Linked DNA regions of Homo sapiens. The protein of the gene in region 2 interacts with the protein of the main gene of each other region in a pairwise test. Each region holds a gene or a part of one and is shown on either strand. Other genes may lie near its edges.

Region 1 (4,437 bases), about 25 Mb from region 2:
ATAAGTAGCAAGAGTTGGGGATACTTGGGATCATGGGGCTGAATGTGGTAAAATTCCTGTCGTCTCAGTTCAGGATCTGTCCTGCAAAATGATTAGCCAGCAGTTTAATGTCCCATGGCCACAACTAGAGGGAATGGAAAGAGATGGAGCAAGGATCCACAGATGGCCTGATGCCAGCACTGTCCACCATGAGGAAGACTCACAAGAGGCATTGCCCTAGAGCCCCTGAGGGGCAGAACTGCAGGTGTGATCAAGGGAAAGTTATAACCTTTGGTGTGGGAGTAGAAAGAGGCCATGGGCCAAGAATGGGTTCTTGTGTTCATCATACTTGCCTCCTGGACTCCCCTAAAATACTCATAGATTGAGACCCACAGCATGCCTCAGCCTAGACTCTAAAGCCATTGCTATACAATACAATCACCACTAGCCACATTTAGCTATATAAATTTAAAGCTCGATTGAATCAAATTAAAACTTCGGGTCCGCATTCACACTGGGCACATTTCAAGTGCTCAGTAGCCACATGTGGCTAGTAGCTACCATATTGAACAACATAGACAGGAAATATTTCCATCATGGCAGAATGTTCTATTGGCAGTGCTGGTCTAGAAGAAAACAGGAATCAAGTAGATATAATGAATATTCTTTAATTCATGCCCTCTTGGACCAGCTATGGGTCAGCAGGCTAGGAGCTATTTGCAAGGTTTAGATTGTTACCACCTACTGGTCCATCCTGTTCTTCCTAACATGCACACCGGACACACACACACACACACACACACACACGCACACAACCTTTCTTCTTTATTTACTTGTTTCTAAATGTAACTAGGTGGAACTATCAGACAGAAACAGGGTGTTGCCAAGAATGATTTAATAGAACTGCAGGATCCCATGATGTTGAGACTCAAGGTTGGAAGAGAGGTGTCAGACTGCAGAAGTTGATTCCAGGCTTGTATTTGTGTCTGTTAATTTTGGTTTTACAGGTACATACTTGGGATCCACACAGCACTTAGCCTCAGTTTTGCATAATATATAGTATACTTCACTTTCTTTACATGTTGTTCTGCACCTGCCTGACTTGCCCCAACATTTCATGACTGAAAACAAAAGGGAAGAAGAGAATAGAGTCAGTTTTGAAAGAAAGCAGAAAGGTGTGAAAGGAAGAGGCTAAAGCCCAGTAGAGGAGTAGGAGGGAAATGAGGAGGTCTGTGGGGAAGAAGCTCTTACACAGGATCCCCTAAGTTTAAGGGAGATTATAGACCACTACGCTTTCTTCCTTCACTTGTGCCCCCTGTTAGAACCCCCAGAGTCCCCCCAACTCAGTGGCATAGGACCTACTGGATAGCTTCCCCTCCTTGGCCAGCTCCTTGGGAGGGGGAAGAGGACCCCTCTCCCAAGGGTTTTATCTCCCCCATATTATAATGTACCCAGGTGCCCAGTAGCAATTAGCCACCTTTTCTCATTGTTCTTTGGTACCCCCTCTGACCATATCAATGAAAGGTGACAGGAATATTAAATAAACTCATTTAACATCTGTAAGTCTTCTAGGGCACCTTTAAAACTCCCAAGAATATCATACTGCCTTCTTCACAACATCCTGGGACTTTTCTCTGGCCCCAACCAGTCAAGGGAATTAGGAACAGCTATTCCAGGGAACCTACAACCTAAGGTAACCCAGATGATTTGAGGTTGCATTAAAAAGTGGAATCAGAATCCTCAAACAATCAGAAATTTGAGAACCATTTTCCTAGAGGCAACAATGCATCAAAATTCAAATCCTTTCAATGAATGTTTTTGAAAAAGTCCCCATTTTCTCTATACTCCATACCCAAGTCTCTCTCTTTACACCCTATCCCATCCTCAGGTCATCACGTTCAGCTTTTCCAGAGCTAACCAGAGATAAGGTTGGAATGGTCAAGTACTGGGCACTGGGAAGACCATTTGGTACCAGAGAACTCAAACTTCCCCATAACTAGAGAGACTACCTAAAGGCCTCAATGAGCTCTACCAGGCCATTCTCCCAGCCCAACCTGTCAGAGTCCCCAGAGTTCTCTGAACATGCATCAGGTTTCCTGACTCCCATCCCCTTCTGGAGATCCTGTTTACCTGGGGTGACCTGGGCCAGGAGCAGAGTAACAGTCAAAAGCAGAAGAAGGAGCTTCATGAATGATGAATGATCAGGGAGGGATAGGAGGCTTCTCAACTGGTAAAACAGACAGAGGACTCCATTCTGGGCAGTCCAGACTGGTATTTATTGCCTTGAGGAGCATGGCAGAGCCAAGATCAGTGAACCAGAACGGGAACAGTCATTTGAGATCAGACAGGCAGGCAAGGAAGGTATCAACCACACTGCCTGAGGAGGCTGGGAGAGGGGGAAGGGACGTTAACAAAGAGAAGATACGGCCTTGCCTCTGAAGAATTTTATAATACAGCTGGAGAACCAAGAAGGGGAAAAATATTTTCATCTCTAATTTGTTTTTCATTAATGAGAAAAAAAGAGAGAGAAAAAGAGATAAGACAGAAAAGGAGTGATACTTCTCTGCGCCTTGGGTTCTTCCCAGCAACAAGGACATCTTAGGATGTCCCATATGTTGATGATTCATTATAATACCAAATGAAGGGCAGAGCAGGGGAAAATACCTTAATAGCTCCATGGCCATCACCACTGGAAACCAGAATGTCAGTATTCATGGAGTGGAATGAGCAGGAAAGCCATAGCCCTTACTTTTAACAGTACATATTTAATAGGAACAAGTAGCACCCTCATAGGTAGCAAAAGAAAAGCCATTTATTATTGTTGTGGTCTTTTTTTTATTATTACTTATTTTTTTGAGACAGTCTTGTTCTGTCACCCAGGCTGGAGTGCAGTGGCACAATCATAGCTCACTGGAACCTCGAATTCCTGGTCTCAAGCAATTCTCCTGCTTTGGCCTCCCAAAGTGCTAGGATTAAAGGCATGAGCCATCATGCCCAGCTTGGTCTTTCTTATAAGAAATGGTAGATTGCCCCAGCAACTTGGGAGGCCGAGGCAGGCGGATCACAAGTTCAGGAGATCGAGACCATCCTGGCTAACTCAGTGAAACCCCGTCTCTACAAAAAAAAATACAAAAAATTAGCCGGGCGTGGTGGCTGGCCACTGTAGTCCCAGCTATTCAGGAGGCTGAAGCAGGAGACTAGCTTGAATCCGGGAGGCGGAGGTTGCAGTGAGCCGAGATTGTGCCACTGCACTCCAGCCTGGGCAACAGAGCGAGACTCTGTCTCAAAAAAGAAAGAAAGAAATGGTAGATTGTAATCTTGGCCCTACTTCTTCATCCCTACTTGAATTCACACATTTGCCAAGGTCTCATCCTAGGAGAACTCTATTTCATTTTCCCTTCACTTTGGCCTTGGCATGTGATTTGCTTTGGCTAGTGATATGTGGGCAGAAGTGACGGTGTGCCGGTTGTAAGCCTAGGTTTTAAGAGATGATGAATATTTTCATTTGCCCTTCTGTGTCTCTGCCATCACTATGAGAAGAACATGCCCCAGTGGTCCAAGGAGGATGAGAGATACGTGGGGCACAGCTACTCCAGGCGACTCACAGATCTACAGTGAGAAACAGAGCTGCCCCAGGCATTCCAGCCTCAAGCAGGGCAATCTAGCCAAATATAAAGGATTGATGTTTTAAGCCACTGAGTTTTGGAGTGGAACATTACATAGTAATGGCTAACTTATACACAAGGCCAGCAGATAGATCAGGAAAGAGCCAAGTGCTTTTTAGGACAATAATGGTAAGGTCTATCTTTCTTTTCTTTTTCTTTTTTCTTTAAGACAGAGTCTTGCTCTGTTGCCCAGGCTGGAGTGCCGTGGCACCATCTCAGCTCATTGCAACCTCTGCCCCCCGGGTTCAAGCAGTTCTCCTGCCTTAGCCCCCCGAGTAGCTAGGACTACAGGCACGCGCCACCACACCCAGCTAATTTTTGTATTTTTGGTAGAGACGAGGTTTCACCATGTTGGCCATGGCTTGTCTCAAACTCCTGACCTCAGGTGATCCACCCGCCTCAGCCTCCCAAAGTGCTGGGATTACAGGCGTGAGCCACTGCACCTGGCCTAGGTCTATCATTTCAAAATGGACAGAAATAAAGACATACTAATAAGAGGAATATCTTCTTTCTAACATGGAAGAAAACAACAAGCCAGGAGCAGAGGCTCCTGCCTGTAATCCCCACAATTCGGGAGGCTAAGGCAGGAGGATTGCTTGAAGCCAAGAGTTTGAAACCAGCCTCAGCAACATAACGAGACTCCATCTCTACACACACACAAAAAAAGTTTTAAATAGCCGGGCATGGTGGGGCAAAGCTGTAGTCCTACCTACTAGGGAGGCTGAGGCAGGAAAATCATTTGAGCCCAGGAGGTCGAAGCTACAATGAGCTAAAATTGCACCACTGCACTCCA
Region 2 (4,426 bases):
TTTTTTTTTCTTCCTGAGATGGAGTCTCACTCTGTTGCCCAGGCTAGAGTGCAGTGGTGCGATCTCAGCTCACTGCAACCTCTGCCTCCCAGGTCCAAGTGATTCTCCTGCCTCAGCTTCCCAACTAGCTGGGCCTACAGGCCTATGCCACCATGCCGGGCTAATTTTTGTTTAGTAGACATGGGGTTTCACCATGTTGGCCAGGCTATTCTCCAGCTCCTGACCTCAGGTGACCCACCTGCCTTGGCCTCCCAAAGTGCTGGGACTACAGGTGTGAGCCACCACACCCAGCCCAAAGTATACTCTTAACCCAGGGTGGGCACACACTGCTACGATCAATGATGGTGTGAGGTAATAGTGAGTGGTGGGGACTGTGGAGGGAATATGGCCACCGAAAGGACGGTTTCACTTGGCTGCAGCAGAGAGACTGGTTCCATGAGGGTGTGCACTCATTGTTTCTGGACCTCCCATATTTTCAAAGGAAGCCAGAATGTGGAGTTTTAAAGTGAAATGCCCCCCAATATTTAAGTACTGACAATTTTTAAAAACAATGTAGGCCAAACAAAACACATAGGTGGGCCGGGCGCAGTGGCTCATGCCCGTAATCCCAACACTTTAGGAGGCCGAGGCAGGTGGATCACCTAAGGTCGGAAGTTAGAGACCAGCCTGACCAACATGGAGATACCCTGTCTCTACTAAAAATACAAAATTAGCCAAGCGTGATGGTGGATGCCTGTAATCGCAGCTACTCAGGAGGCTGAGGCAGGAGAATGGCTTGAACTGGGAGGCGGAGGTTGCGGTGAGCTAAGATCATTGCACTCCAGTCTGGGCAACAAGAGCAAAATTCCGTCCCCAAAAAAAAACAAAAACAAATTTTTTGTTTGTTTAGTTTGAGCCACATAGGTGGCTCCAAATTTGTAGGTAGCCTGTGGTTTAATATCTTTCTCTCCCGTTTAACTCAGCTCCACGGGGCACATGGCATCTCCCTCTGCTCATCACAATGTCTGGATCAAACAAATGAAAAACAAAAACATGATGGCCTCTCCCAGCAAAGCTCCAGGGTTGGAAAGAGTCCCCTGGCAGGGAATTGGCACCCCGTCGTGCCCATCCTCTCTCTCTGACTGCCTGCTGGAAATGCCCCCATCTCCCTTTGAGTCCTCCTCCCGGGCAACCCCTGTGACCTGTAACCTCTGTCCTGAAATCATCACAATGGCCAGAGTGGCCTCAGCTCAGGGCCTCTGTGACATCACCAAGGGCCTGGCACCAGGTGCCCAGTCTCCCAGTTGCGAGGGCAAGCAAACCCGTCATGAGCAACTCCCTTCCCCATCTCTGCTCACCATGTGGACGCTGAAATCGTCCCTGGTCCTGCTTCTGTGCCTCACCTGCAGCTATGCCTTTATGTTCTCTTCTCTGAGACAGAAAACTAGCGAACCCCAGGGGAAGGTGCAATACGGAGAGCACTTTCGGATTCGGCAGAATCTACCAGAGCACACCCAAGGCTGGCTTGGGAGCAAATGGCTCTGGCTTCTTTTTGTTGTTGTGCCGTTTGTGATACTGCAGTGTCAAAGAGACAGTGAGAAGAATAAGGTAAGGATGGCTCCATTTTTTTTACACCATATTGATTCAATCTCAGGAGTCTCAGGGAAACGGATGTTCTAGTGAGTCTAGACGGCACCGTTGGGTATAATGAACCGACCTCATGGTCCTGGGCAAAGCTGGCAAATTCACTTCCTGATGTATCCTTAGTGAAGACAATTGTCCCCAGATCCACAGATACTGGGACAAAGAGTGGAAAGTGACCTCTGCTTACTGGCTCACAGATTTTCTGGTTAGATGGATTTTTTCAAATGTAGGATAGATTCAAGAACTTATGGTGTGTTTCAGAAAGTCAAAATTATTCACAGGGCCAGATTCACTAGCCCCTGTTTTTTAAATTCTTGCTAGTGTTTGACTTACTACAAAATCCTGAGCTAAATGGAAATGATATCATTATCCCAACAAAATATGAGACTTGTGCTGAAGAGATAAAGATGTAAGGTAGTTTGAGCTGGTCCTCAAAGTGACCACAAACAACTCTTTCAGGTAGAAAAGGAAGGGGAGAGAAAGTGCGTTCTCCCCTAGAAAGACCCAGCACTTCATAATCCTGTGCCCAAACTGATGAGAGCAGGGATCGGCAAACCCTTCCCGTAAAGGGCCAGGGAGGGTGCGAATATCTTCAGCTTTGTGGGCAGTATGGTCTTCTTGCAACTACTCAAGTCTGCTGTTGTAACACGAACTGTGTCAAAACCAACAAAGTTCACAATATTACTGACCTTGAGTATCTTTCCTGACAGGAGCAGAGTCCTCCTGGCCTTCGAGGCGGCCAACTTCACTCTCCATTAAAGAAAAAAAGAAATGCTTCCCCCAACAAAGACTGTGCATTCAATACCTTAATGGAACTCGAGGTGGAGCTTATGAAATTTGTGTCCAAAGTGCGGAATCTTAAACGTGCCATGGCAACAGGTAGTGGCAGTAACCTCAGGCTTCGAAAGTCAGAGATGCCTGCAGATCCATACCATGTCACGATCTGTGAAATATGGGGAGAAGAAAGCTCTAGCTGAATGGATTTGTGTGTCAGGAGAGAAAAAAGTTGAGTGTTGACAAACTGTATGCAAACTAATAAAACTATTCTGAAGAAAAGAACTTCCATGTTTGAGAGCTTGCTTCTTTTCTTTTTTTCACTAGAAGAAAAAGTGAATGGGAGACCAGTAGCCATAGCAGTGATGGTTTTGTTTTTGCCTCTCTCACGTCATCTAGAGCTGTGGGTGGTGAGAAGAACACCGAAAGCTACATAATAGTACGTGATGAGCTCGTGCTTCTGTTCAATGGCCGCGGGTGGACGATGGAGCTAGGGAAATCTGGGATAAGATGCTGACGTCACTTCCATACAAACTCTTGCTCTCTATAGCATCTATTTGTGCAAGATGCAGAACTGCTTTTTATCTTTGATTTATTACAAAAGACAGCATTAATGATAGTTTTAAAATGGTAAAATGATTCAATTAGGAGGGGTGTATTCTAGAGTTATCTGATTCTCTCACCACAAGAGTCCTTTCACTCATTCCCTGTCAAAGGTTCCGTGTATATTGACTTTTCCTTCTACCACACTAGCAGTTACATTTGTCAATAATTGGATTTAAAAAAAAAAAAAGGGGGATGAGGCAGGAGAATCGCTCAAACCCGGGAGGCAGAGGTTGCATTGAGATCGCACCGCTGCACTCCAGCCTGGGTGACAGAGCGAGACTCCATCTCAAAAGAAAAAAACAAAAAGGAGAGGCCCGGCATGGTGGCTCACACCTGTAATCTTAGCCCATTGGGAGGCCGAGGCAGGAGGACTGATTGAGCCTAGGAGTTTGAAACCACCCTGGGCTACATAGTGAGACCCCATCTCTATTATTTTAAATTAACAAGAAAACGGAGAAAAATTCATTCATCCTATGCCATTGGAGTTTTGGATACAAGTGTGCTAACCAGGGGCTCCCAGATTAATTGACATGTTCTTTATCCTACTTATTCAAAATGTGGATATTTTACATGTTACTGTGGCTGATGGCATCTCTGTACATACTTAGGTGCTTGCCTAATGGTGATTTCTATTTTCCTCTCTCCTACAGTGTTTATTGATTGGAATTCTGCTGTAAGAAGAGCTGTTCCTTCGCCGATGATTGATGGATGGGTTTCTGTATGGACTTACAGGTGTGTTTTTTTTTTTGGATTATTTTCTGGCTCCACCTTTCCCACCTTTGGCGTTAGGAGCTGCTTCGGGTTGGCACTTGTGTTCTGTGAGCAAGCCCCTTCCTCTTTTGAGCAATTCCTTACTTTCTGGCAACCCAAGATGCTCCATGCTCATCTGGTTCATTGCCTGCCTTCATCCTGGAATCAGCCACTTCCCCAAGGGGCCAGGTTCCCTTTCTTGGAGAATGGTGACCTGCCCTCCTGCAGCCAGGATCATGACTTATCTTAAAATCCTTCATTTAATTCATCTGCAAAATGTCTCTTGCCACATGAACTGCAGGCCCACAGGTCCCAGGAATGAGTGCATAGGCATCTCTGGGGCCGGTACCCAGTTGACCAGTGCTGTCACCCTCACAAGCATCAAAGTCACCCAGGGCGCAAGGAAGACCAAGACCATGAGGCAGGAGGCCATGGCTTCTGCGGCTGCAGCAGAAGCAGGAGAGGGAGGCAGGGCAGACAGCAGCCCAGATGCCTGGGGCCTCAGGGGAAGGAGGCCCTGCCTCGAAGGCATAGGCGTCCCTCAAGGGTCCCAACCCCGGGCCCTGAAGGGTGGGCAGCATCTTCCCGGGAAGAATATGGTGGCTGGGCATGGTGGCTTATGTCTGTAATCCCAGCACTTTGGGAGGCCAAGGTGGACAGATCACCTGAGGTC

The links. Proteins that work in one complex are often made in the same cells at the same time.
Region 1: the proteins of FAM209A (region 2) and DEFB121 interact in binary tests that used the Homo sapiens proteins (3 or more experiments, as listed by UniProt).

What each region holds. Positions count from the first base shown.
Region 1 is NC_000020.11:31,403,986-31,408,422, forward strand, and holds DEFB121 (beta-defensin 121 isoform 1 precursor), read right to left. Parts: upstream 2,231-4,437; 5' UTR 2,168-2,230; coding exon 2,110-2,167; intron 1,101-2,109; coding exon 928-1,100; 3' UTR 860-927; downstream 1-859. UniProt on the Homo sapiens protein: Has antibacterial activity.
Region 2 is NC_000020.11:56,523,471-56,527,896, forward strand, and holds FAM209A (protein FAM209A precursor), read left to right. Parts: upstream 1-1,273; 5' UTR 1,274-1,338; coding exon 1,339-1,587; intron 1,588-2,312; exon of another isoform or gene 2,313-2,333; coding exon 2,334-2,600; 3' UTR 2,601-2,682; downstream 2,683-4,426. UniProt on the Homo sapiens protein: May play a role in sperm acrosome biogenesis.